Regions from separate parts of the Homo sapiens genome. Here all the other regions are linked to region 1. The links come from fine-mapping of genetic effects on gene expression. A gene starts in region 1. Each other region holds a variant in brackets. All regions are shown on one strand. Distances are between the middles of the regions. Region 1 holds the start of KIAA0930. Region 2 overlaps KIAA0930. Region 3 holds the start of LOC105373064 (a long non-coding RNA gene). Region 4 has its middle 22 kb from the start of KIAA0930. Region 5 has its middle 6.5 kb from the start of UPK3A.

Region 1 (5,101 bases):
ACAAGGCCACAATCATCCTGATTGTCCCAACAAACATGTGCCTGGCACAAAGAGAACACAGGCAGAACAGGACTGTGTGCCTGGGAGCTGGAAAGAGTTCCCGGAGAGGCAACACTGGAGCTGAGACTTAAAGGAAAACTTAGAGATGCTTGTGGGGCACATGAGTAGGGGCGGCTTTCCGGGCAGAGAAAACAGCAGGTTTTCTCTGCTTCAGAGCCCTGCAGGGACTGAGTTCAGCAGCAGGGGAAGAGGGGAGACCTGGCACGTGCGGGAGGCCTGGAGAAGAGACAAGGAAACAGCGTGAGTATCGTAGGCACATAAAGACCTGGCTGGGGATATTCAGGGAGTGGAGGGCAGGCTCTGAGGTCAGGCTGGCAGAGGGTCAGTCCCGGCTATGCTGCTATGCTGCTTCCTCATTGGTTGTCCCTGGGCAGGCTCTCTCTCTCTCTCTCTCTCTCTCTCACCCTCAGGCTCTTCATCGCTGATATGGAGATAATACTGCTCCCTGGCAAAGTCAGCATTGTGTCAGGATTAAATTTGCAGCATGAGTAAAGCACCCGGCACATAGTAAGTGCTCAGTAAATGCTAGGTGCCATTTTCACTGTTCACTGTTCTTCTGGGAATGGCCCTGCAGCCTCCTTGCGGGAGGGGCTGCCTAGAAGAGGAGAGAAGGTGCTCACAGGTAAAGGTGGTCAGAGGACAATAGGTGTGTGTGGACAGGGGAGTGGGGAGGGACTGCTTGAAGCTGCTGAGCAAACAGGGCCAAGTGACCTGCAGCAGATGGTCCTTCAGATGCATCCCAGCTCAGATATTCGGTGCCAGCTGACAGGTGGGCCTGCCACGGTGGCACACAGTAGGTGCTCAATGAATGTTTGCAGAATGAATGAATAAGCACGCTCCAACTTCTGCTCAAAAGTAAATCTTGACACCTTTTCAGAAAGAAACCATTGAAACCTTGTCAACCATTGAAGTTCTTGTCCATTTCACTTCATAAGCACCCCCCACCCCACCCCTGCATGAGGAAAGGCTCGCCTGGGCAGGCTAGGCTGGGGCCTGCTCACTGGGAAGCCTCCCATGCTAAGCCTGCCTCCTACAAAAGGGATTCAAATTTACTTCCTCTCTCCACTCCAGCCTCCAGGGTGTGGCCTGCTGAGGGGCCCTGAATGCCTGGGACTGCCATGTCCCTGCAGCTGTGTGACCTTAGGGGGATGCACTTGTTCTCTGGGACTCAGTTTCCCCAACGGTGAATGAAGGGGTGAATCTGGAAGGCTGACATTCCGTACTCAGCAATGCTGTCACCCCCTCAGAAATCCCCAGCCTAGCCTGGGGGTGGGGTGGGGGGTGGCTGACAATGTGGTATGAAGTCATTCCCTGCACGGAGGAGGGAGGGGTCTTTTCCATGGAGAAAATGACGAACCTGAGACGACAAAAGAGGGGGCTTCTCCTGGGCTTCAGTCTGGGCATGATCCATCAGTAATGGATTACCTCACTGGCTGGGAGACCCCACCCACACCTGCAGTCCCAGGCCCTTCCAAACAATACGAGGCACCCCCATCCCACGCCCCCCAGCAGATCCATGACTTAAAGCCCAGAATCACACCGAGAGGCAGCAGGCCCTGCCCCTCAGCCAAGCGGGCGGGTTCGGGGGGCCATTGCCCAACAGGTCCCTGGATACAGCTAAGGGATGAGAGGGGCCGGTGGGTGCGGAAAGACAAAGGCTTCGGGTAGCAGGAGACAGTGGCCAGGGCACGCTCGCAGCGAGGTCCACCCAGAGCCCAACGAGGGCCCGACCCTGCCGCGCTGGGCTAAGGGTGTACCCAGATCCCACGCCCACACTCCCTACCGCGGTGCTGAGGGCCCGGGGCGGGCTTCCTGGAGAAGGAAGAAGACCCGCAGAGACACGAAGAAGAAGGAGGAAGATGAGACAGACACCCGGACGGACTGACAGGGGGAGACGCCGAATGAGACCCGGGCACAGGGGTGCGGGGCGCTCGTCGGACGGAAAGCAGAGACAGACCCAGATGCAGGGACGGTGGGGGGGGGGCCATGGAGGAAGACAGGGTACCCAGGCAGACCCAGAGACCACGACACCCGCGCAGAGACAGAGATGCGCGGGGCGCACAGAAACACGGACGCGCAGAGGCGGCCCCGGAGACGCTCACCTCTCCCGGCCCGGCCTCGCCCCCGGGTCCCACTCACCGAGGCCGCAGACCTCGCGGCGCAGGCTAAGACGGCCGCGCTCCTCCGCTATGGCACGCAGCATGTGCTGCAGCGAGCGCTCCTCGGCCTCGGCGCCGCCCGCAGGCTCGGGGGCGGCGGCGGCGGGGAGGGCGGGCGGCCCGGCCCGCAGCCCGCCGCGAGCACCAAGGAAGCCACAGTCCGCCTCTGTGCGCGTCGCCGTCGCCGCCGCCGCCGCCACCACCCGCCAAACACAGCACCGGCGAGCGCACCTCCGCGCCGCCGCCGCCCGCGCGCCCCCGGCTCCGCTCGCCCCGCCCCGGCCCGGCCCGGCCCCGGTCCGGCCCCGCCCCTTCCCCGCCCCGGCCCCGCCCCTGTCCCCTCCCGCCCCGCCTCTGAACGGCCCGGACCCACCCCGGCTCCCTGGCCCCGCCCCCTGACCTCCCTTGCCCCGCCCACTTCCAAACGGCCAGTCTCCGCCAATCTTCGGATGCCCAGGACAGCCTCCCTCAAACCGCTCGCGGGGTCCCGCCTCCACCCAAGGTCCTAAACGCCCCACCAACGGGATCACGCCTCTGAGCCCCTCCCGCCGCCCCTTCAGGGCACCTCTCCCCTCCCCCGCTGCTACCCCACGGGATGTGTACTTTGTCACCCGCCCTGTGCGTTGCCACCTCCACCAAGTCCCCTCGGCTGACTTCTGGGAACTTCCTCCGCAGAACCCCTCAAGAGGTCACCTGCTCCCAGAAGGTGGTCTCCTGGGGGACACCGTGGCAAAGCCCTTCCGGCCCCCCTCCTCTGCACCTGGCACAGTGCAGAGTGTTGCGCCTCCATTTCCTCAGCTGCACCATGGGGGACCTTTCCCTGCCTTGCCTCCCCAACATGGGGGAGTGTTGATGAAGGGGGAGGTATGAGGTTAGCTGGGCGTGTCATCCTGATGAAGCCAGGTCTGGCCAGCATCCCTCCGTGTGCTAGTTGTGGCTGATACAGGAAGACACCGGAGAAGCAGCCAGTGGCCTCCCCAAACCTCACGCCTGGTGGTCCATTTCCAAGAACAGGGGGAGATGGAGAGACCAGCATTGATTTCCAGGTCTCTCCAAAGCTAAATCTACATCACTCCCTGCATTCACAGCCTGTGTGTGGACCCCAGACCCATCAAGGTCCCCCTTTCCCCTGTCTGGAGTCCTCTTCTCCCCATTCCTGTGTAACTTGCTTCCTTTGTGTCCCGAGTGTCACATCCTCAAAGAAACTCCCCTGACCGCCTTCCCTCCCTCTCTCTTCCCTTAGTCTGTTTCTCCTTCACAGGGTGACACTTACCTCCTCCCGACACATTGGATACCTATGGGTTCACTTGTTCTCTTCTCTACCGAGGGAGGGGCCTGTCTACTACACAGCTGTTGTCTCAGTACCCAGAACATTGCCTGGCACACATTAGATGCCCAATAAATAGATATGGGCTGCAGGCTGGGCACAGTGGCTCATGCCTGTAATCCCAACACTTTGGGAGGCCGAGGTAGGTGGATTGCCTGAGGTTAGGAGTTCCAGAACAGCCTGGCTAAAATGGTGAAACCCCATCTCTACTAAAAATACAAAAATTAGCCGGGCATGGTAGCACACATTTGTAATCCCAGCTACTCTGGAGGCTGAGGCAGGAGAATTGCTTGAACCTGGGAGGCGGAGGCTGCAGTGAGCCGAGATCCCGCCACTGCACTCCAAGCTGGGAGACAGAGCAAGACCCTGTCCCCCCCCAAAAAAAAAGAAAAGAAAAGAAAAAAAAATGTAGGCTGCATAAACGAAGAATGATGGAGAGGTCTGATGGGGACGCAGGGGTCTTCCTGGGAGGCACAGCAGGAAGGAGCCGTGGGGTTGGGCAGAGCCCCAGAAGGGAGATGGGATCTGGATCCTGCTTCAGGCCTCTGCCCCAGTTTTGTGCCACTGGCCCCTGAACTCTTCAGAGCAGAGCCACATCTGACCCCTCTGTGTCCCCAGTGCCAGGCCCAGGAGGGCTCTGTAGAAAGGTGAGCAGTGAGGGAATGAAGGAAGTGCGCGACCAGCCTCACGTGTATTTCTCTTCTCCAGTGGGCCTGCATCCCTGTCTGTAAAGTGAGGACACTGGCATGAGGGCTGAGGCCTCTGGTTCTGCGTCTGGAGAGCTGGGGTTTGGGCTGGTGGACGTGAGAACTGGGGATGGTGGATCAGACAGCATGAGCGAGTGCTCCAAGGCTGTCAAGTCCAATAGTCACATCCCTCTTTGCCTCCCCAAACCCCACAGCACCCCCTGCCTGTTCCCACTGCCATGCGTTTGCCCACAGTGTTCCCTTGGCCTGAAATCCTTTCTGCTCCGCAACTGTAGTTGCCTTTGGGACCCACATTGCCTGGTTACGCTTGGCCAATGCATTGTGTTCTTATTTGCTTCACAAACCCCCTTTCCCCACCCCACCCTCCTGCACACAGTTGCCTCCGTGTATTCTGTGTCATATGACCAGCATTGAACCAATTCATCCCACTTCCCGTGGCACCCAGCCCAGGACTGGTGCCAGAAAAATATCTGTTGAATGAATGAGTAAACAAACATCGCTTGGGCTCTCTCCTTTGTATTTCAATAATACTCCAGGTATTACCTATACACAGAATTTTCTTTCTTTCTTTTTTTTTTTTTTTTTTTTTGAGGCGGAGTTTTGCTCTTGTTGCCCAGGCTGGAGTACAATGTCGCGATCTCGCCTCACCGCAACCTCCACCTCCCAGGTTCAAGCAATTCTCTTGCCTCAGCCTCCCAAGTAGCTGGGATTACAGGCATGTGCCACCACGCCCGGCTAATTTCATGGAGATGGGGTTTCTCCATGTTGGTCAGGCTGGTCTCGAACTCCTGACCTCACATATACACAGAATTTTCTAATGTCAACAAATGCTAAATCACACTGTGCAT
Region 2 (5,101 bases), 28 kb before region 1:
GAGGAGTCCCTCCCCCAGAACTGTGCAGAGGTGAGAGGAGCCTGTGCCCGCCATGAGGGTCACGGGCAGTGAGGATCCTGAGGCACCATCCACCCCCCTGCCAAGGGCACTCATATGGTCACACTAACCCCAAACATCCCAGCCTCCCAGGTGTCCAGAATGGGAGGGCCCTCACCTTTCGGGGCACCTGCCCTGATCCCCTTTTACCCCAGAGAGGAGATGACCTGGCAGTGTCATATGGTAAACCAGGGAAAAACAAGACTGGCCTTGAAAGCTGGTCTCTCGATTGTACACCCAGACAGGGCGGGCGTGGCAGCAGGTTCTGAGGAGCCCTGAGCCAGCTCCAGAAGGTTCTTACTCGGGGATCCCATCACCAGTCAGGCCTCCTCTTCATCCCTCCCAGAAAGCATTCCCTGCCTGCCCGAGTGTGGCTCTAGTCCCTGCACACCCTGCCTGCCCGAGTGTGGCTCTAGTCCCTGCACACCCGCCACTGAAACTGCTGCGCCAAGGCCGCCACCCCTCCCTGGTACCGAATCCAATGGGCCCTTCAGACACTGCACCCCACTGGCTGCACCCACGTCTCCAGACCTCCCCTCTTGGGGTGCCCTCCCCTCTCCTGGCTCTTCCCCCACCTCTCTGGCCAGTTGTTCATGGTCTCCTGCTGGTCCCTCCAAAGTGGGGCTAGCTCAGGGCTCGGGGCCAGCATGCAGGCACCCAGGCCCTTCCACTTGCAGAAAATCCATCCCGCGTGTGTTCAGGCTCAGAAAATGGGCCCAAGGCAAGACCAGGCTCCAAGTAATCCCTGCATGAGCCTCTGCCAGCAAACCATGGCCCCGGAGTTACAGAGCCAGGCAGGCTGCAAGTTCCAGACCTAGCTACACGGCCCTCTCATTTCTTGTTTTTGAAGGAAAACAAAAGCGTTTCCATGTCTGGCATATGGAGTTGATTAAACATTTTACGAACAGCAAAAGCTTGTGAAAAACAGAGAAGGAAGCATGCAAAATGTATTTTATTAGCTCCTCCCACACTGCGATTTAGTGGATGAAATACGTTAGGCGAATCACTTCATCTCCGAGCCCTCCGTTTCCTCATCTGTAAAAGGGGTAAGAACACCCACCCTGTCGAGTTGTTGGGACTTCACAAGGAGGCTAAGAAGAAGAGAGCTCAGCACTGTGTCTAGATGATGGCGAGGGCTCAGTAAGTGGAAGGCACCGTCATCATCACCACCACTGAGTCAGGTCACCCTGCCATGGCCAAGGGAGGGCCCTGGGCTCTGGAGTCCGACCTTTGCTCTACCATCTACTGACTAATTATAAGAGGCCAGCCGAGTTAGCTGTCTCTGATCTGTTTCCTCAAAGCTACGACGGTGACGGCAATCACTGCCCTTCAGGGTCACAGTGAAGATGAATGACAATGTGTACAGACACCCAGCACATCCAGATTTGCACATGAGACTGTCTACACAGTTCCTGGAATACAGTAGGTGCTCAATAAATATCACTCACCCTCTTTGATATGCATGAGCACTGTAGGAAAGCCCACATGTACACCGAGAGCAGACACCACAGGGATGCTTGGGGCACAGACGCAGGGGCAGGGGCCGGGGGTCACTCACCTTCCTCCCGTCTGCACCGCTTTCGCTGCCGGAGTACGCCAGCTTCCGGCGCACATAGAAAAGCATGTCGTCCTGCCGGGGAGCCCATTTCTCCATGAAGTAGGTGGAGAACATCCAAGTCCAGAAGACGATGCGGTCATCCTTGAAGCACCCTGCAGAGGGAGGCCAGACAGGAGTGAGGAAGGACGGCCACCCTGGCCCTTGCAGCATGGCCTTGGCCAAGCTGCGCCCATACCCCCACATTTCTGGCCAGAAATTTGCGAGGGCTCTGAGATGCGCCACCCTTCCCTCACCACTCCCGACCCCCACCCATGGAGCATCCAGAGAGGCTGGAGGACACCTCCCAGGAGGCCCAGTTCCTCCACTCAGCAGCAGCCTGAGAGCCCATGCTCCCAGCCCCACAGCTGAGCCTGACTCCAGCCTGGGGATGAATCAGCAGCTTCGGAGGAAAAGGAAAATCCCGAGGAGCCAGGAACGCCACTGGCTGGCTGGTGTCTGGGCTGGAAGCCGGGAAGGCTTGGCTGGGGGGGAGCCTTTGGAGAGGCAGGGCTCTCACCAACATCTCTCACCCCCACCCACTCCCCCTGGCTGCGGCAGTCCCAGCGGGAACCCGACTTAAAGGGACAGCCGCCCTCCAGCCAGCCAAGGCTGCAAGCGGGAACCGCAGGGAGACAGCACCCGCCCCACCCCTGCCCCACGTCTGCGCAGCTTCGTGCTCATCTGATCCTCACAGGGACTTCTCCTTCTATTACAAATGGTATTTCTTTATGATAAATATTTGTAATATTTTCCTGCAAAAGAGAAAAAGCCCACAGGCTTTGGTAGGGAAGATCTGGGTTTCCATTCCAGCGCTGCCGCTGGTGATGGGACAATGGGCGGGGGCTCTGAGCCACAGGTTCCTCGGGGCACATGCAGACAAACCGAGACCACGGGCACACAGCAGGATCAACATAGGTGGGTCTGTCCCCTCTCTAGACAGATTCAACACTTCAAAATATGCAGCCAAGCTCTCTCTTATCAACTCAGTAGATTAAACCGGGTCTGCTTTTGTTTTCTGTCTTCCTCACTGACCAGTGCAATCTAGTGCTGGTACTCGGGCTGGAAGGCACTAATCCCGACACTTAGAGATGGGGAACGTGAGGGCCAGTGGTGCCAGAACCCTCTCTCGCGCTCACAGGCAGGCCAGTGGGCTGACCAGGACTCGGCCACTAGCTGAGTCAAATGCAGAACACCCCAGCCTTGGTTGACGTCAGCCACAACACTAACCAAAGAACCAGGACTCACAGCCAGCCCCAGCCCTCGGCCCTCAGCCCTCAGCCCTCTGCCCTCTGCCCTCAGCCCTCTGCCCAACAGTGTGTTGCTCACCCACTCCCATGCCCTGCCTGGCTCCTGGGCTCTAGGGCAGTGAGAGGGAGGAAAAGAGAAGGAGGCTTCATCGGTGAGGGTCTGGGTCAGCGAGCCTTGTCAGCCTCCAGGGGTGAGGGCCAGGAGAGCCCA[C/T]GGGACTGGCAAGACCTCCCAGGCTCACAGGACCCGGGGGAACGAAACACGCGTGCTGTCTGCAGAGTCGCTTTGAAATTCCTGCCGCGTTTTTGCAACAGGCAAAGCCCAAGTCACGCTACTACAGACCCTTGCAAAATTAAGCAAAGCGCTGTGATTATTCCTGGATAAACTTCAATTCTTTTTTACTTCCTCTTTACATTGCTTCACTTTTGGTTCCCTCTTAGAGCCCAACGGAATAACAGAATAAATTTGGTCTTTAAAAACCAGCCCTTGGCTGGGTGTGGTGGCTCATGCCTGTCATCCCAGTACTTTGGGAGGCTGGGGTGGGTGGATCACCTGAGGTCAGGAGTTCAAGACCAGCCTGGCCAATATGGTGAAACCCTGTATCTAGTAAAAACACAAAAATTAGCCAGGCATGGTGGCGGGTGCCTGTAATCCCAGCTACTCGAGAGGCTGAGGTGGGAAGATCACTTGAACCTGGGAGGCAAGAGGTTGCAGTGAGCCGAGATCGCACCATTGCACTCCAGCCTGGGTGACAGAGCAAGACTCCATCTCGGAAATAAATAAATAAATAAGCCAGGCATGGTGGCAGGCGCCTGTAGTCCCAGCTACTCTAGAGGCTAAGGCAGGAGAATCACTTGAGCCCGGGAGGCAGAGGTTGCAGTGAACCAAGATCGTGCCACTGCACTCCAGCCTGGGCAACAGAACGAGACTCTGTCTCAACAAACAAACAAACAAACAAAACAGCCCTTAAGAAAACTGCCAGATTCTCACAGAGTTATACATATACTTACAAAACCAGCCACTAGCCACTCCTAGGTACCTGCCCAAGAGAAATGAAGCACATGTCCACAGAGACTGGTACACAAATGTTCACAGCATCTTTATTCGTAACGGCCACAAACTGGAAACCAGGAGAATGCACACATGTCACAATAAAAACAAACTAGTGATCCACACTACACTGTGGATAAACCTCAAACTTGTCCTGCAGAGCAAAAGAAGTCAGGCGCAAAAAGCTATTTACTGTATGATCACATTCACACGATGTTTCGGAAAAGGCGGAATCGTAGTGACTTAAAGCAGGAGGGTGGTTGCCCTGAAAGGTTCTAGATCTTGATTGTGACGCTGGTTTCACAGGTGCGTATAACCATCAAAACTCATCAAACTTAGCCGGGTGAGGTAGCTCATACCTGTAATCCCAGCACTTTGGGAGGCCAAGGCGGAAAGACTGCTTTAGGCCAGGAGTTCAAGGTCAGCCTGGGCAACACAGTGAGACCTGGTCTCTAAAAAAAAAATAAAAATTAGCTGGGCATGATGGCATGTGGCTATGGTCCCAGCTACCAGGGAGGCTGAGGTGGGAGGATCACTTGAGCCCAGGAGTTCGAGGCTGCAGTCAGCTATGATCGAACCACTGCACTCCTGCCTGGGGGACAAAGTGAGACCCTGTCTCTAAAAGGGTATTAAAAAATAAAATTTAGGCCAGGTGCAGTGGCTCACACCTGTAATTCCAGCACTTTAGGAGGCTGTGGCCGGCAGATCACTGGAGGTCAGGAGTTCAAGACCAGCCTGAGCAACATGGTGAAACCCCATGTCTATTAAAAATACAAAACTTAGGTGGGTGTGGTGGTGCTCACCTGTAGTCCCAGCTACTCGGGAGGCTGAGGCACTAGAATCACTTGAACCCGGGAGGCAGAGGCTGCAGTGAGTCGAGATTGTGCCACTGCACTCCGGCCTGGGAGACAGAGCGAGACCCTGTCTCAAAAAATTAATTAATTTAAAAAACATAAAAACTTATCAAACTGTTTAGTCTACATATATGCAGTTTATTTTACATAAACCATATGCCAATAAAATTGTTAAGTTGTAGCTAATGCTGGCAAGGGTGCATTGAACTGGAACTCTCCGATATGCTAGAGAACAAAACATGTGAGAAGCTAAAGAGCATTTTCTCACTCCTATGCATCTACCTGACGGCAGAGTACA
Region 3 (5,101 bases), 49 kb before region 1:
ACCCCTTTAAAGTACATGATTCAGTGGCTTTTAGTATACTCACAGTGGTGCAGCCGTCATCACTGATCCAAAGTATTTTCCTCACCGGTCTTCTGGGTTTGAACGTTGGGTTAGAGCGTGCATTAGGTGATCCTGAGGCATGCTCACATTTGGGAACCGCTGGCACATGCACTCCCGATGACTCCAAAGATGGCCCGTGAAATACCCCTTGCACACGCCGGGAAGAAATGGCAGTAGTGATCAGCGTTGCCAGCAACTATGCCAGCCTTTGGACGTAACCTTGTCTCACTTCAACATCGTCGCGTCCCAGGAAGGAAAGTGGTGATTCTACTTGAGAAAACCCAGGCCCAGGGTTAAGTGTGTCTGAGGTGGTGCAGCTTGAGGTCCCAGCCCCACACACCTCTCCCCAGCGTGCCACGTTAAGTGAGATATACGTGCCCACTAAATTACTCAACTGCACTGGCTTCTGGAAGTGGCTAAAATCTTTTAAGCAAAATTGTTTATTCAGAGTAGCATAAAATTTGGCTAAAAGCCATGGTTATTTCAAAATGAGCAACCTAATTGTTTCATTAAAATCAGATTCCAAGAGGAAAGACCCCAGTCCACACAGAGGAAAGAACTCTCTAACCTGTTGGCTGATGGAGAGGCTAAGTCAGGGGCAATTCAGTGACACTGTAAGGAAAGAAAAGACAACATGATCCTTTCTTTATCCCCAGAAACAAGTATTTTCTCTTCCTCATGTAAATTTTCCAGCTGTTCTTAGCATTTTAACAATCAGGCACAAAGTACAGCATGTTACCACAGTCAACATGTCTATTTACAATGAACTGTGTTATTATATGGATTGAGTTACATTCCCCTCTCCTCCCAGTGTAAGATTCCCAAAGGTTTTCCTTTCCAGTTACCTTTTTTCCTTCTAAGCTAGGGCATGACAGTACTTCCTAAAAGCTCATCTAAGGCTAAAGGAACCGAAATAGCAGATTAGCCTTCCAAGAGGAGGCAATGAATAGGAATGAGGTTCCCGCAGGCAGCTTCCAAGATAGAGACTCTCCCCAAATTTCTATTAAACATTTTTCAGGTGACTGCTTTAAAAGGACTTCCCACTGTTCAACAAGAAGGGGGTTGACCTGGATGGCAAGGAAGTCTTCACCTGCTAGACCGCCTCCTTCCTAACCTCCATCTTCATGGGCTGCCTTTGGGGTTGTGGTCAGAAAATTCTCTTGGTCTGGTGTTTCTAAGGCAGTGGCTGTTCCCAAGAAGTGTCATTGATGGGATGTCCCTTACTGTATTCCGGAATGCTTGCGTTCCTCTCAGACCCTCTTTTCTCTGCCCCTCATTTTCCACTCTGTAACTTTCTGCGGTGTCTTAGGTCTTAACATCCATCGCTGGTAACTCACTAAGTCCATCTGACCGTGGAAAGGAAAAGCTCACAGTGTGAAAGGCGACGATGAGGCTGCTCCCACCTACGAGGGCCCTGCAGTAGCAGACTCGGAAGGATCAGCCGGAAAATGCGAGAGCCTGCTCGAGGTCCCCTCACCTGCTGAGCTGCAAGACAGACGCCTGCTGCAAACACCTCATCTTCCGTTAGATCAGCCAGCTTACCTGGAGCCTGCAAAACCTGAACTTGGGGCTCCTGGCCTCTATTCCATTTTTTCCATTTCTGTGAGGGTTAAGAGGTTCTCTGAAAAAGCCTGGGAAATTTTATAGTACAACTGAAAGGGTGTGCACTACTTTGTGGAGGCTAAAAGCTTAACTTGAAATGCATTTTTTTTTTTTTTTTTTTTTTTTTTTGAGATGGAGTCTCTGTCACCCAGGCTGGAGCGCAGTAGTATGAGCTTGGCTCACTGCAACCTCTGCCTCCTGGGTTGAAGCGATTCTCCTGCCTCAGCCTCCCAAGTAGCTGAGACTACAGGTGCACATCACCACGCCCGGTTAATTTTTGTATTTTTAGTAGAGATGGGGGTTTCACCATATGTTGGCCAGGCTGGTCTCGAACTCCTGACCTCAAGTGATCTGCCCGCCTCGGCCTCCCAAAGCACTGGGATTACAGGCGTGAGCCGTGCCAGGCCTTGAAATGCATCTTGAAATGATTTAATACTGCAAATATGGCATCTCTGGCCAAACCCATCACTGACCTGCCCACCTCTTCTCGGACTCCTCACTGGCTCACGGCAGGCAAAGCCAGCACACAGGGTGATTTTTCTCTGCCTCCAACACACTCTAGTTCAAAAAAGTAGTTTGTGTGAAAGCTCCAAAAAAAGTTTCAGGAATCACTGGGGGCAAATTAAGTTTCAATCATTAAATTATTGCTTTGCTATAATATCTGTATTTACCCTGAAATTCCCATTACAGAAAAAGATTAGAGGAAGACACAGAAAAAAAAAATTTAATATTCAACATGCAAAACAACCTTTAAAAGAAACATGAAATCATAAAGCAAAGCTAACAGCCAACCAACAAATACCGCCTAGCAATGATTTCCACTGGATGTGG[A/G]AGAGGGTTAATAAAGACGCTGTTGGTAACGCGTACAGAACTATCACTGGCAATCAGCATACTGAGCTATCCAGTGGAGGCCAGCATCGTGTTTTTGCTAAAATACATGTTGTAGAAGTCATAATTCATAGTGAAGAATCTCAACAGGTTTTCTTACAGATTTAATTACTCTCACACAAATAATTCATTTGGAAACCATAAAAGATACCTATTTACACCTAAACTGCCTGGCCTTCCAGAGCGGGGACTAAAGGGGCAGGGCGGGGAAGAAAGCGAGCGTGTCGCGGGCTCTGTGGGGTTGCAGGGTCACTGTTATTTTGATCTGCTGAGCTCAAGGACTGGAAACGGAATAAAAACGCCTACTCGCCTTAGGCAGGATAAGAAGTTGTAAACTCACCCATCAGCAGCTGCCTCCACTTCTGAGGCTCCCCCTGCGGGAGGAGCTCTGAACCCAGCCCTGAGGCCACTCGGTGTCCCGAGGAGTGCTCCAGGGCTCGGAGAAGGGGCTCAGGGGTCCTTTTGCCACTGAGGATCAAGCCAGCCAGTGAAAAAGAAAAAACAAAAGCCCCAGCAGGTGCCCATCACCCGGCTCCCAGGGGTCATCTGCAGAGTCACGTGGCACTCTGGCCACTGCTGAAGAGCTGCTCTCCCTCGAAGGGCAGTGGCTGCCCCCTCCAGAGGCTGCTTCCATTCAAGCTCAAGGGCACGTGCCTTTCCTTATCTCGTGGAGTGTCCGTCCTATCAGGTGGTTGTTTGTAAAACAAAAGTACAGTCATTCTGCTTTCTGATACAGACTAGAGCAAGAGGACAGGAAGAACCAGTGGGCTGTCAAGAGACACTTGGTTTTTGAAACAGGACATGAAAGCAAATCCCACCTAAATTCAAAAATTGAGGAAAACGTCAGTGAAACCTGTTAAGTTCGCTAAAAAGTTGGCAGATGTTTCGTATGTCTTTAAAGGATTTTGGCCAACAACTTAAAACCACCATATTAGGACATGGTCCAGGCAGTCATTAGAATATACTGGCTGCACAGGGCCTTTCCTCTGGGACATCTTTTAATGAAAAAAAAAAGTTTTACTTTGTTCTTCAAAAGTCTTCTACTAACTAGTCTATTTATGATTAAAACAGCAAAAACAGATCCTGGTTTGAGTGCAGGTACATTCTTTGGGGGAGGGCACCTCAGGAACATGCATTTATACCCTTCCTGTGACTCCGTGTAGAGGGAAGACTAACTCACAGTCCATAAGAATCCAAAAGTGAGCGGCGACTTCACTCAGCAACCCATCCTGCCTCCAAGCTGACTTGGCTATAGAGTATCTTGCGTCCTTTTGTTCTCTTCTGACTACCTGTCACTCATGTTTTAAATAATCTTCTTTTGAAATAATAAGCCTTAGCTGGCTTTGCAGGCAACTAGGCACTTCCAGCAGGACATGAGAATGTAAGATGGCCACTACCGGAACTTACAGGTGCCAAAAGAAGAAAGGGTATAAACGGAGACCACCTATCACTCATCAGAACCTAGGATCATCACATTCCTTTAAATGGAAAAGCCCACCCTACAACTTTCTTTTTAATGTTCTAAAAAGTGACACCTAGGTTTCCTCAACAGAAAGCTGTGCTTCAATCCCAAATCCCCTTGAGACCAACATGCCTTAAAGGGGGTTTGGGTTTAAAGACCAATGTATCTTTTTTTTTTTTTTTTTTTTTTTTTTTTTTTTTTTTTTTGAGACAGAGTTTCGCTCTCGTTGCCCAGGCTAGAATGCAATGGCGTGATCTCGGCTCACTGCAACCTCTGCCTACTAGGTTCAAGTGATTCTCCTTCCTCAGCCTTCCGAGTAGCTGGGATTACAGGTGCCTGCCACCATGTCCAGCTAATTTTTCTATCTTTAGTAGACATGGGGTTTCAGCATGTTAGTCAGGCTGGTCTTGAACTCCTGATCTCAGGTGATCCACCCATCTCAGCCTCCCAAAGTGCTGGGATTACAGGCGTGAGCCACTGCGCCCAGCCCCAATATGTCTTAAAGGGGGTTTGGGATTAAAGTACAGTTTTCCGCTGAGGAAACCTAAGGTCTTAAAGGGGTTTTGGGATCAAGTGTCCTGTTGAGGAAAACTAGGTGTCACCATGCATTAGTCTTCCCCGCATTACACAAAAGGCAGGTGTGTTCCCAGAAAAATTAAAGATGGTCTTACAAGAAGTACAAATGTGCCAACACCAGGACTTTGGGGACCCTGGTTCTGGCCCTGCCACTTGTTACTCTATTACTTTATTCCACATGTCATCTGTTACTTTGGAAAAACAAACCTGGGAGTAACACCTTACTGTCTGGTTCTCAAGTGGCTAAGTGGCTCTGAGCAAGTTTTAAATCCGGCATCGCAAGTACCCTTTGGAGAGGGATTTAGGGCCTGAGAAAGGCAGACTCCACCGAGTGTCTGTCCATCTGTCCGGACAGCACCATGTGGCTCAGCATGCAGGCCAGGCCGCGTGCCTGGGTTTGACTCCCATCGCCGGCCCCTGCTGTTAGTTCCGGACAGTTCCTTGGTGCCTGTGTGCTGGTTTTCTCGTCTGTAAGATGGGGTCGGACAGGCAGCTGCACATGGTAGGCGCTGT
Region 4 (5,101 bases), 22 kb after region 1:
GAGGAGGAGAACTGTGTCACTGTACCACCGTCTGAGGGCTTTGCAAGTCGCTGCTGGCAAGAGGGAAGACAATGATAGAACAGCATGGCCCCCAGGGGGACAGGGCCAGCTGTGGGAGAACTGCTGCCCTGGTGGGCATCGGGGGGACAGTAACTATGGGGATCCCTGAGGTCACTGCCCAGAGTTCCCTCTAGGACACCTGGCTTTCCTGGCTGCTGTGGGCCATAGACAGAAAGGACAGGACAGGAGCGACAGAGAGCACTGTCTCTTTAAGAAGCAAGAATGTAGCCGAGCAAGGTGGCTTACGCCTATAATCCCAGCACTTTGGGAGGCCAAGGCAGGTGAATCACTTGAGCCCAGGAGTTCAAGACCAGCCTGGGCAACATGGAAAGACCCCCGTCTCCACAAAAAAAATACAAAAATTAGCCAGGCATGGTGGCACGTGCCTGTGGTTCCAGCTACTCGGGAAGCTGAGCTGGGAGGATTGCTCAAGCCTGGGAGGTTGAGGCTGCAGTGAGCCGTGATCACGCCATTGCACTCCAGCCTGGGCAACAGAGTGAGACCCTGTCTCAAAAAACAAAACAAAACAAAAAGAAGCAGCAAGAATGTGCTCGTTCTCCCTTATAGGTGCTGACTGAAGCTGCACGGGAACCACCAGGTCTAGGATAGAGGCAGGAAGGGCAAAGGTGGGGGGAACACCAGGGGAAGTGAGGGCTACAGGAAGAGGGGCCTTGGGGCTGGGTGCGGTGGCTCACGCCTGTAATTCCAGCACTTTGGGAGGCCGAAGTGGGCGGATCACCTGAGGTCAGGAGTTCAAGACCAGCCTGGCCAACATAGTGAAACCCTGTCTCTCCTAAAAATACAAAAGTTAGCCGGGTGTGGTGGCAGGCACCTGTAATCCCAGCACTTGGGAGGCTGAGGCAGGAGAATCGCTTGAACCCAGGAGGCAGAGGTTGCAGTGAGCCAAGATCGCGCCACGGCACTCCAGCCTGGGTGACAGAGTGAGACTTTGTCTCAAAAAAAAAAAAAAAAAAGAAAGGGGTTGGGGGAGGCTTCAGAACAAGGATGTGGGCTGCAGGCCCGACTTGTCTCCTGGCATGCTCAGCGATAGGCAGGTCCCCACATACCCTGGGCCTCAGTTTCCTCATCAGTAGGAGAAGGGGGCCCCTCATTCCTCCTGGATACTGAGAGCCACGAGGAAGTGGGGAGAGCCACACTCGGGGCTAGAATCCCAGCTCCACCAGCCCCTCGCTGGGTGAAGCGGCTCAGCCTCTGTGAGTCTCAGGTCCCTTCTCAGCAAAGTGGGGGTCATGGGGGCCGTGCTTCCCCATGGGGCTGTGCACACATTCCTTGCGGTCCTGCCTGGAAGCCTCTAGCACTTTCAATACAGGAATGGTTTTCATGGTCCGTTTTCCTTAAGACTCAGCACACAGAGACATCATTCATTCATTCTCCCCTCTTTCATCGTTGCCTGCCTCCTCAGGGTAGGCCCTTGATGGCTGGGTTCTGGGGACACCAAGTGCTCCCCACAGCCTGAGATATCAGTGGTTCATGGCTTGGCAGGCTGCCCTATGATTGAAGAAACAAGGAAGGGACAGGTGTGTGTACAGACGTCAGAGCAGCCAGGTGCAGAGGCAGGTGCGTGTACAGATGTAAGCGGGGTCAGGTGCCGATGTTATGGAATCTTTGGGGTGTCGCTTTTCTGGGCAGAAACCTCTGTGGCCAGTGGCATCTTTGTCTGAGTTTTGCTTGGGCCCACTGGGCTCATTCCGCCCACTTGTCCTGGCAGACTGCACTCGGCTCACACTATCGGCCTGGATCCCACGTCTACCAAGGGAGACTGCGTGGGGTGGTGACGGGTGTGTAAGCACGCGTGAGGTCCGGCCACTGCACAGTCAGACACGCCGGCTGCTGCAGTGGGGCAGGCAGCTCCGGGTGCCAGCATGGGCCCCAGCTCTCTGCGAGGCTACAGCTGGACCAGGCGCACTGCAAGCAGCTTCCACAGCTGGCACTGGGGAACACAGTGGCTCTCAGAAGCTTGGAGATGCCAGAAACCACAGGGACCCAAAGAGGGCATCACAGCCCTGGCTTGGGAGACTCCCCGGTCTGGGCTCCCCAAAGGGCTGCAGCTCTTCCTTCCTTCTCTTCCCCTGCAACGTGGCCAGCAAGGGGCATGTCTCAGCACTGTTTGTGTTATAGCTCTTTTAGCCTTATTCAGTGGGTCCCAAGTTCTTGTCCTCCACTCAGGAAGAATGAGGTACGGAAACAAGAGGGTGAGCAAGACGAAGAGGAGCTTTATTGAGTGACAATAGCTCAGAGGAGGCCCTGGAGAGGGCAGTTCCTCACTACAGCTGGTCATCCGACGTCTGCTCAGCTCTGGCTGAGCCTGGGGCTTCTGTCAGCCTCAGAGAGGGGGAAG[T/C]TCATGCTGACTGGTCCATGGGCGGCCATGGGCAGGCCCAGAAAAGGCAACACAAGTTCGCACTCCAGTCCACGGCACTGACAGCCTGGCCCCCAGCCTTCAGGGCCTCCCTGGCCTGAAGGTGGGCCTCACCAGGGACTCACCCCCTTCTGCCCAGAAACCTGTCTGCCTCCTGCTGCCATTCATGGCGCCCAGGCTATAGGTACCAAGGGGCGTCTGCAGGCCACTGCCAAGCTGCCCTCAGTTCCTCCTCAGCTTCATTCCTATGCTCATCAGTGCCCAAAATCTGGAGAGGGCTGAGACGGCAGGGGGCTGGCATGTCAGCACTGCCCTGAGTGTGTGCACACCTGGCTGGGCTGTGACAAAACCCAGGCTCGGCCCCAATTTTGCCCCAAGATCAGAGCAGGTGCCGACAGCAAGGAGAAGCCAGGCAGTGGGAGCAGGCATTTCCAAGCCTGTGAGGGCAGGGGGGCCTTCCAGGGCCCCCAAGAGTGCAGAGATGCCTGGGTCCGCAGTGGCAGTTAGGGCCGGTGCAGCTATGTGGGATGTGGGGCAGGACTCCAGCCTGCTCCGTGGAGCGGGAGGCCCCGGTCTGCAGCTGTGGTTTGGGCGGCTGCAGCTGCACCTGGGAGGGTGGGGTTCCCACCTGCTCCCAGGCTCCGAGAGCACAGGGATGCCTGGGTCCACAGCCGTGGCTTGGGCAGCTGCAGCGGCATGCAGGGAGCTGCCACCCCGACTCAGAATGGGAGAGGCTCCTGCCTGTCCCCAGCTCCTGCCAGTTCCATGGAACATGCAGCCCCAGCCGTGCCTCCCTGCTGCAGCTGGTGTGACAGCAGCAGCCGCTCCAGATGGCCTGCCACTGCCACCACTGAGACAGGTGTGTGTATAGAGGTCCATTTTATTCAGGCTGGCGAAGGAAGGCTTCTCAGGGGAGGTGGCCCTTGGGCTTCCTCCAGATGCTCTGGAGTCCTCAGTGTCTGACTCCGGCAAGTCTTTCTGAAGAACAAGCAAAGCTCTTTCTCTTGCCACCGCCAAAACATTTCCAAGGGACTCTTCAGAAGAGAGTCAGTCTGCACAGCTCCCCTGGGGCCTGGGCGGTGGGGGCAGAGATCTTATCCAACTTCTCAAATGAGATTCTGCAGGCTCCAGTGACTCGCTGGAGGTCACCCAGCTGGTAAGAAGAGGAACTGGAACTTAACCTCAGGGCTTCCACCCCGGCTCCTTCTTCTGCTCCACAAATGCAGCCCAAGCCTTGAGGGCAGTGAATAGGTCAAGGGCCAGGACAGTAGCCTGGAGCCACCCCACGAGGGTGTGGGAACCGAGGGCGGGGTGGCATGGTGAACATGGAGGAGGGAAGCCCCTATTTTTCCTGAATCCCATGCCCTGGGATCCCAGAGCAAGGCTGGCCAGGGCTGACCTTCCTTCTCATTGCAGCATCTGCTCTCAGGGCCAAGGATTGCTCTGATGACAGACTACAGGCAGAGCGAGTGGCCGGCAGGAGCCACGTGCTTCCGGAGCCTCCTGCGGCCACCCCTGCCTCCGCACTCCCCCTACAGTCCACCTCGACACAGCAGCCCAGGCCACGTTTCCAAAGCCAAAGTCAGATCATGCCATTCCTGTTCTCATCTCACACAGAATAAAACCTCAATTCTTGTCTCCGCCTGCAAGTCCCTGTACAATCCGGCGCCTGCTGATCTCATCAAGCTCTCCTGGAACCAAATCACCAGAGCAACACCATGGCAGGGGCCTCCCTCTCAGAGGAGGAGGCATTGACAGGAGATGATCTCAGGGCAGACAGTTCTAGACCAGGACAGAGCTGGAGCTGAGGCCTGAGGCAGCAGGTGCCTAGCCAGGGGCCAGCAAGGAGGTCTGAGTGCTGGAGGTCAATGTTAGAAAATAGTCGGGGCCCAGACCAGGCAGCCCATGAATGGGTTTTTCTTTGGTTCACACAGTATATTACAAAACGGACCCACACATATGTAGTTAACTGAATTTGTTTGTTTGTTTGTTTTTGAGAGAGTCTCTTGCTCTCTTGCCGAGGCTGGAGTCCAATGGTGCAATCTCGGCTCACTGCAACCTCTTGGGTTCAAGTGATTCCCCTGCCTCAGCCTCCCGAGTAGCTGGGACTACAGGCACACACCATACCTGGCTCATTTTTGTAATTTTAGTAGAGACAGGGTTTCACCATGTTGGCCAAGCTGGTCTTGAACTCCTGACCTCAAGTGATCCACCTGCCTTGGCCTCCCAAAGTGCTGGGATTACAGGCGTGAGCCACAGTGCCTGACCAAATTAACTGATTTTTGACCAAAGTGATGAAGCAACTCGGTGGGGAAAGGAAAGTGTTTCCACAAAAAGTGTTGGATCAACTGGACGTCCATATATATATAAAAAAATGAACTTCCACACTTACTTCATACTACATACTAAAATTAATTTGGGGCTGGGTGCAGTGGCTCACACCTGTAATCCCAACACTTTGGGAGGCTGAGGTGGGTGGATCACAAGGTCAGGAGTTTGAGACTAGCCTAACCAACATGGTGAAACCCCATCTCTACTAAACATACAAAAATTAGCCGGGTGTGGTGGCACTCACCTGTAATCCCAGCTACTCAGGAGGCTGAGGCAGGAGAATGGCTTGAACCCAGGAGGTAGAGCTTGCAGTGAGCCAAGATCACACCACTA
Region 5 (5,101 bases), 37 kb after region 1:
CGACCTACAAGACTCACAAGAGGGGAAGCTGACAGAGACCAACAGATGGGGCACTGTGCCTCCTGGTGCAGACCAGAAAGCCGAGGCTGGGGCTGGGTCAGCAACCAAGTTTAGAGGCAGATTTGATCGTGGACATGGTCAGCCATGTCAGTAAAACTGGAGAGGATTATTTTGCATTGAATAAACTTATAGCCAGAAAAACTTTTTATTTTATTTATTTTTTATTTTTTTTATTGAGACAGAGTCTCACTCTGTTGCCCAGGCTGGAGGGCAGCAATGTGATCCCAGCTCACTGCAACCTCCCCACCTCCCGAGTTCAAGTGATTCTCCTGCCTCAGCCTCCCAAGTAGCTGGGATTACAGGCGCCTGCCACCATGCCCGTCTAATTTTTTTTGTATTTTTAGTAGAGATGGGGTTTCACCATGTTGGTCAAGCTGGTCTTGAAGTTCTGACCTCAGGTGATCCGCCCTTCTCGCCCTCTCAAAATGTTGGGATTACAGGCGTGAGTCACGGCGCCCGACCCAGAGAAACTTTTTTAAAAAAGAAATGTTACCCTGGCTTCTGGGTGGGGACGCATCAGAGGAGTGATGCATGAACAGGGAGACCCAGTAGGAGGCCAGTCTCCGTAGAAGACAGGGTGTGGACACCAGGGTCCCATGGCCTGGGTTTAAAACCCACCTCCCTACTCCCTGTGTCTTACCTGGAGGACGCTGGGTCTGTCTACCTGTCCATCTCGGCAGGGTCAGGCACTGTGCGGGTGCCGCGGTTAGAGCTCGCGTTTTAGCGGGCAGTTATTCAACTGCCTTGAGCCTCACTTCATCTGAAGGTAATGGAGGTAATAACAGTACCTGCCTGCCAGACCAGATGTGACAGATAAGTTGAAATGTGTAAAACCCCTAGCACAGTCCCTGACACGTGGGGTCAATTGTTATTATGTTATTAGTCCAGGCATGAAAGTGTGGAGGGGGCCAATTACATGTGTGAGGGCTCAACCACACCCCCCAGAACTCATCTGTCAAAGTCCTAAGCTTTAGTACCTCAGTAAGTGCCTGTATTTGGAGACAGGTCTTTAAAAGGGTAATTAAGCTAACATGAGGTCATTAGGGTGGGCCTAATCCAATATGACTGGTATTCTTATAACAAGAGGAGGTTAAGGCTGGGCGCGGTGGCTCACACCTGTAATCCCAGCAGTTTGAGAGGCTGAGGCGGGCGGATCACCTGAGGTCAGGAGTTTGAGACCAGCCTGGCCAACATGGAGAAACCCCGTCTCTACTAAAAATAAAAAAAAATTAGCCGGGCATGGTGGCACACACCTATAATCCCAGCTACTCAGGAGGCTGAGGCAGGATAATTACTTGAACCCAGGAGGCAGAGGTTTGGAGTAAGCCGAGATCGCACCATTGCACTCTAGCCTGGACGACTGAGCCAGACTCCATCTCAAACAAGCAAACAAAATAAATAAATAAATAAATAACAAGAGGAGGTTAGTGGGCTGGGCGTGGTAGCTCACACCTGTAATCCCAGCACTTTGGGAGGCTGAGGTGGGAGGATTGCTTGAGGTCAGAAGTTCAAGACCAGCCTGGGCAACAAAGTGAGCTCTTGTCTCTACAAAAATTTAAAAATAAGCCAGGTGGCGGCAGGCGCAGTGGCTCACACCTGTAATCACAGCACTTTGGGAGGTCAGGGCGGGTGGACCATGAGGTCAGGAGTTCAAGACCAGCCTGGCCAAGTGGTGAAACCCTGTCTCTACTAAAAAAAAAAAAAATACAAAAATTAGCTGGGCATGGTGGCAGGCACCTGTAATCCCAGGTACTCGGGAGGCTGAGGCAGAGAATTGCTTGAACCCGGGAGGCAGAGGTTTCAGTGCACTCCAGCCTGGTGACAGAGTGAGACTCTGTCTCAAAAATAAATTAAAAAAAAATAAGCCACGTGTGGTGGCACATGCCTGTGATCCAAGCTATCTGGGAGGCTGAGACAGGAGGATCGCTTGAGCCCAGGAGCGGGAGGCTGCAGTGAGCTATGATCGTGCCACTGGACTCCAGCCTGGGCAACAGAAAGAGACCTTGTCTCTTAAAAAAACAAATAAACAAACAAAAAACGGAGATTAGGACACACACACACAGAGGAAAGCCCATGTGAGGACACAGGGAGAAGACTGCCATCTGCAAGCCAGGAAGAGTGGGCTCAGGAAGAACCCTTGATCTTGATTAGCCAGCACCTTGATCTTGGACTTCCAGTCTCTGGAACTGTGAGAACGTGAATTTCTGTGTAAGCCACCCGGTCTGCCTTACTCATTATATCAACCCTGGAACACTAATGCACCGTGCCAGGCAGCGGTGGCAGCATCAGAATGGAAGAGGTGGGTTCCAGAGTCACTGGGAAGATCCGTGTGCCCAGCACGCAGTAGGCACTCAACAAACACCTGTTGAGTAAGTTTGGATTCTACGTGAGAGGGGCCTGAAAGGAAAGAGATGGCCCAGAGGAGACAGGACTAGTCCAACAGAGCCCAGGGCTGTGGTGACACCTGGGGAATGTGGGGGACCCTGCCACTGCCCACCACCGCAGTCACAGGGCACATTCACACCCACGACTGCACTTCATCCCACCCCTCTGCAAGAGGACCCCTTGAGCATCCCCATCTTCCTGAAAAAGAAACCAAGGGTAAGGACCACCACAATGAGAATCACAGCCA[G/A]GGCTGAACACGGCTCTTCAGAGAGTCCTGTCATGCGCGGCCCCTTGGAGTCACCAAGGAGGGCATGTTCTGCAGGACGGGCAGCTGGAAATGTGGGTCTGGAGCTTGGGAGACAGGTGGGGGCCCCTTAGAGCAAAGTGGGCGTCCTCATCACAGAGTGAGGATAGACGAGTGAGCACCAGGCAGGGACTTGGGTTTCTCCACTGGGGTTTTTGTTTCTCGTTTTAAAGTGACTGAATCTCTGGTCGGGCACAATGGCTCACACCTGTAATCCCAGCACTTTGGGAGGCTGAGGCAGGTGGATCACCTGAGGTCAGGAGTTCAAGACCAGTCTGGCCAACATGGTGAAACCCCATCTCTACTAAAAAAAATACAAAAATCAGCTGGGTGTGGTGGCACGCACCTGTAATCCCAGCTACATGGGGGGCTGAGGCAGAAGAATCGCTTGAACCCGAAAGACGGAGGTTGCAGTGAGTTGAGATTGCCCCACTGTACTTCAGCCTGGGCAACAGAGCAAGGCTCCATCTCTAAATAAATAAATAAAGTAGCTGAATCTGAAAGCACTGAAAAGCTTGACTTCCAGAGTCCTGGGACAGAGCCCCCACAATGAAAGCCAGCACTTGCTGTGGTGGGATTCCTGCAACTTCTCTGACTTCTGAAGAGAGGAGTCATGGAAACCGACTGGACCCGGGCTCTTCAGTGTTTGGAGAGACATTTCTGGGTCAAGAATTTCCAGCCCATAAATTCCCCATGCTTCAGATTCAAAGGAGGTCTGTGAAGGGCTGGGCTTTGCTTAACCTTTCACATCGCAAAACTTCCTGCCTCTCTGGCCTCAGACAAACACATCCTCCAGGCCAGGGTTCAGAAGGACGGTCTGATGGATCTAGATGTATAAATGACCTCAAGTCAGACTGAATCTGAGTGCTCTAGAAGTGGCCTGATCAAAAAGGAAACATTAAAAAAAATTTTTTTTTAACTTTGGGCTGGGCACAGTGGCTCATGCCTGTAATCCTAGCACTTTGGAGGCCGATGCAGGAGGATCAGTTGAGCCTGGGAGTTTTAGACTAGTCTGGGAAACATGGTGAAATCCCACCTCTATAAAAATACAAAAATTAGCTGGGTGTGGTCGCCCCTGCCTGTAATCCCAGCTACTAGAAAGGCTGGGGTGGGAGGATAGCTTGAGCTCAGCGAGGTCGAGGCTGCAGTGACCAGGGATCATGCCAGTGCACTCCAGCCTGGGTGACGCAGAGAGATCTTGTCTCAAAAAAAAAAAAAAAAGAAAAAAACAAATAAACTTAGGAAAGTGCACGTGGAGCAGCAAGGGACACTGGCAGGTGTCAGGCCCCCTTTTTCTCCTGTTTCCCCTCCACTGACACAAGCAATGGTCTCTCCCAAGTGAATTTCCCACCATGACTCATTTCTCCTGTACTTCCCCCTCTTCAGAATGAGCCAAACAAAAGTCAGCAATCTTTGAAGTGGACATTTGTTTATAAATCTAAGATTTTTTTCTTTCCAGAACATGTTTTGGGCCTTTGCAGATTATTGTTTTAACATTTTCCTTCAAATGTTCTCCCCATATTTGGGCAAGGCAAGAGACAAGAGGACTTTTTGGGGTTTTTGTTTTTTTTTTAAAGAAACTGCAGCGTTTTGGAGAAAACAATTTCCTGGGCCTACTTCCTCTCACAGGTGATTCTGAGCTGGGCCTTTAAGATCAACCCTGCTGAGGCCAGGCACGGTGGCTCACACCTGTAATCCTTGCACTTTGGGAGGCTGAGGCTGGTGGATCTTGAGGTTAGAAGTTCAAGACCAGCCTGGACAACATGGTGAAACCCTGTCTCTACTAAAAATACAAAAATTAGCCAGATGTGGTGGTGCACACCTATAGTCCCAGCTACTTGGGAGGCTGAGGCAGGAGAATGGCTTGAACCTGGGAGGCGAAGCGTGCAGTGAGCCGAGATCGCCCCACTGGACTCCAGCCTGGGTGAGAGAGCAAGACTCCATCTCAAAAAAAAGAAAATCAACCCTGCTGGCCTCTGATAAACTGCAGGTTCACAACCAGGTTCACAAACAATTGTTGAACAAGAAATGTCAGTCTATAAAAATTCTTGGAAGAAAACCGCAGCCCTGTTCAAGAGTTCCTTACCTCTGGGACATTTTCTGTGTGCTGAAGATAAGGATCTGATCATCCGCTCTCTGCATGTCAGGGCTGAGAGGTGACCAAACTCCCTCCCCACTTTCTAGAAGGTAAACCGACACCCAAAGAGGGGAACAGTGCATTTCTGTGGCAGAGAACAGACTCTGTCCCCCAACATTTTCACTTTGAAAAATGTCAAACCTACAGAAACATTTCAAGAACACTACAGTAAATACTCATACTTATTTACCAATTGCTAACATTACACTAAATTT

The links.
Region 2: its variant is fine-mapped to the expression of KIAA0930 in whole blood (TOPMed, PIP above 0.99). The same link has a PIP of 0.9 or more in blood mononuclear cells.
Region 3: its variant is fine-mapped to the expression of KIAA0930 in monocytes (Fairfax 2014, PIP 0.95). The same link has a PIP of 0.9 or more in B cells.
Region 4: its variant is fine-mapped to the expression of KIAA0930 in whole blood (TOPMed, PIP 0.91).
Region 5: its variant is fine-mapped to the expression of KIAA0930 in whole blood (INTERVAL, PIP above 0.99).

The regions. Positions count from the first base shown.
Region 1 is chr22:45,238,441-45,243,541 of GRCh38, forward strand. KIAA0930 reads right to left here and starts at 2,454. Exons shown (of 10, transcript NM_001009880.2): 1 at 2,200-2,454. The coding sequence starts at 2,263. RefSeq lists silencers at 2,028-2,117, 2,268-2,327, 2,488-2,547, 2,578-2,777.
Region 2 is chr22:45,210,341-45,215,441 of GRCh38, forward strand. KIAA0930 reads right to left here. Exons shown (of 10, transcript NM_001009880.2): 2 at 1,616-1,767. Among named protein-coding and RNA genes, the nearest start is that of MIR1249, 12 kb to the left of the region's middle. RefSeq lists enhancers at 650-1,150, 1,282-1,831, 1,832-2,381. The variant C/T (reference allele first, on the strand shown) is at 3,113.
Region 3 is chr22:45,189,874-45,194,974 of GRCh38, forward strand. KIAA0930 reads right to left here. Exons shown (of 10, transcript NM_001009880.2): 10 at 2,371-5,101. It overlaps LOC105373064 (a long non-coding RNA gene), which reads right to left and starts at 1,739. Exons shown (of 4, transcript NR_146602.1): 1 at 1,151-1,739; 2 at 629-672; 3 at 44-327. RefSeq lists an enhancer at 996-1,496. The variant A/G (reference allele first, on the strand shown) is at 2,494.
Region 4 is chr22:45,259,998-45,265,098 of GRCh38, forward strand. No RefSeq gene overlaps it. Among named protein-coding and RNA genes, the nearest start is that of KIAA0930, 22 kb to the left of the region's middle. RefSeq lists enhancers at 3,353-3,402, 3,413-4,248, 3,673-3,862. The variant T/C (reference allele first, on the strand shown) is at 2,420.
Region 5 is chr22:45,275,932-45,281,032 of GRCh38, forward strand. It overlaps the pseudogene RPS10P31. Among named protein-coding and RNA genes, the nearest start is that of UPK3A, 6.5 kb to the right of the region's middle. The variant G/A (reference allele first, on the strand shown) is at 2,693.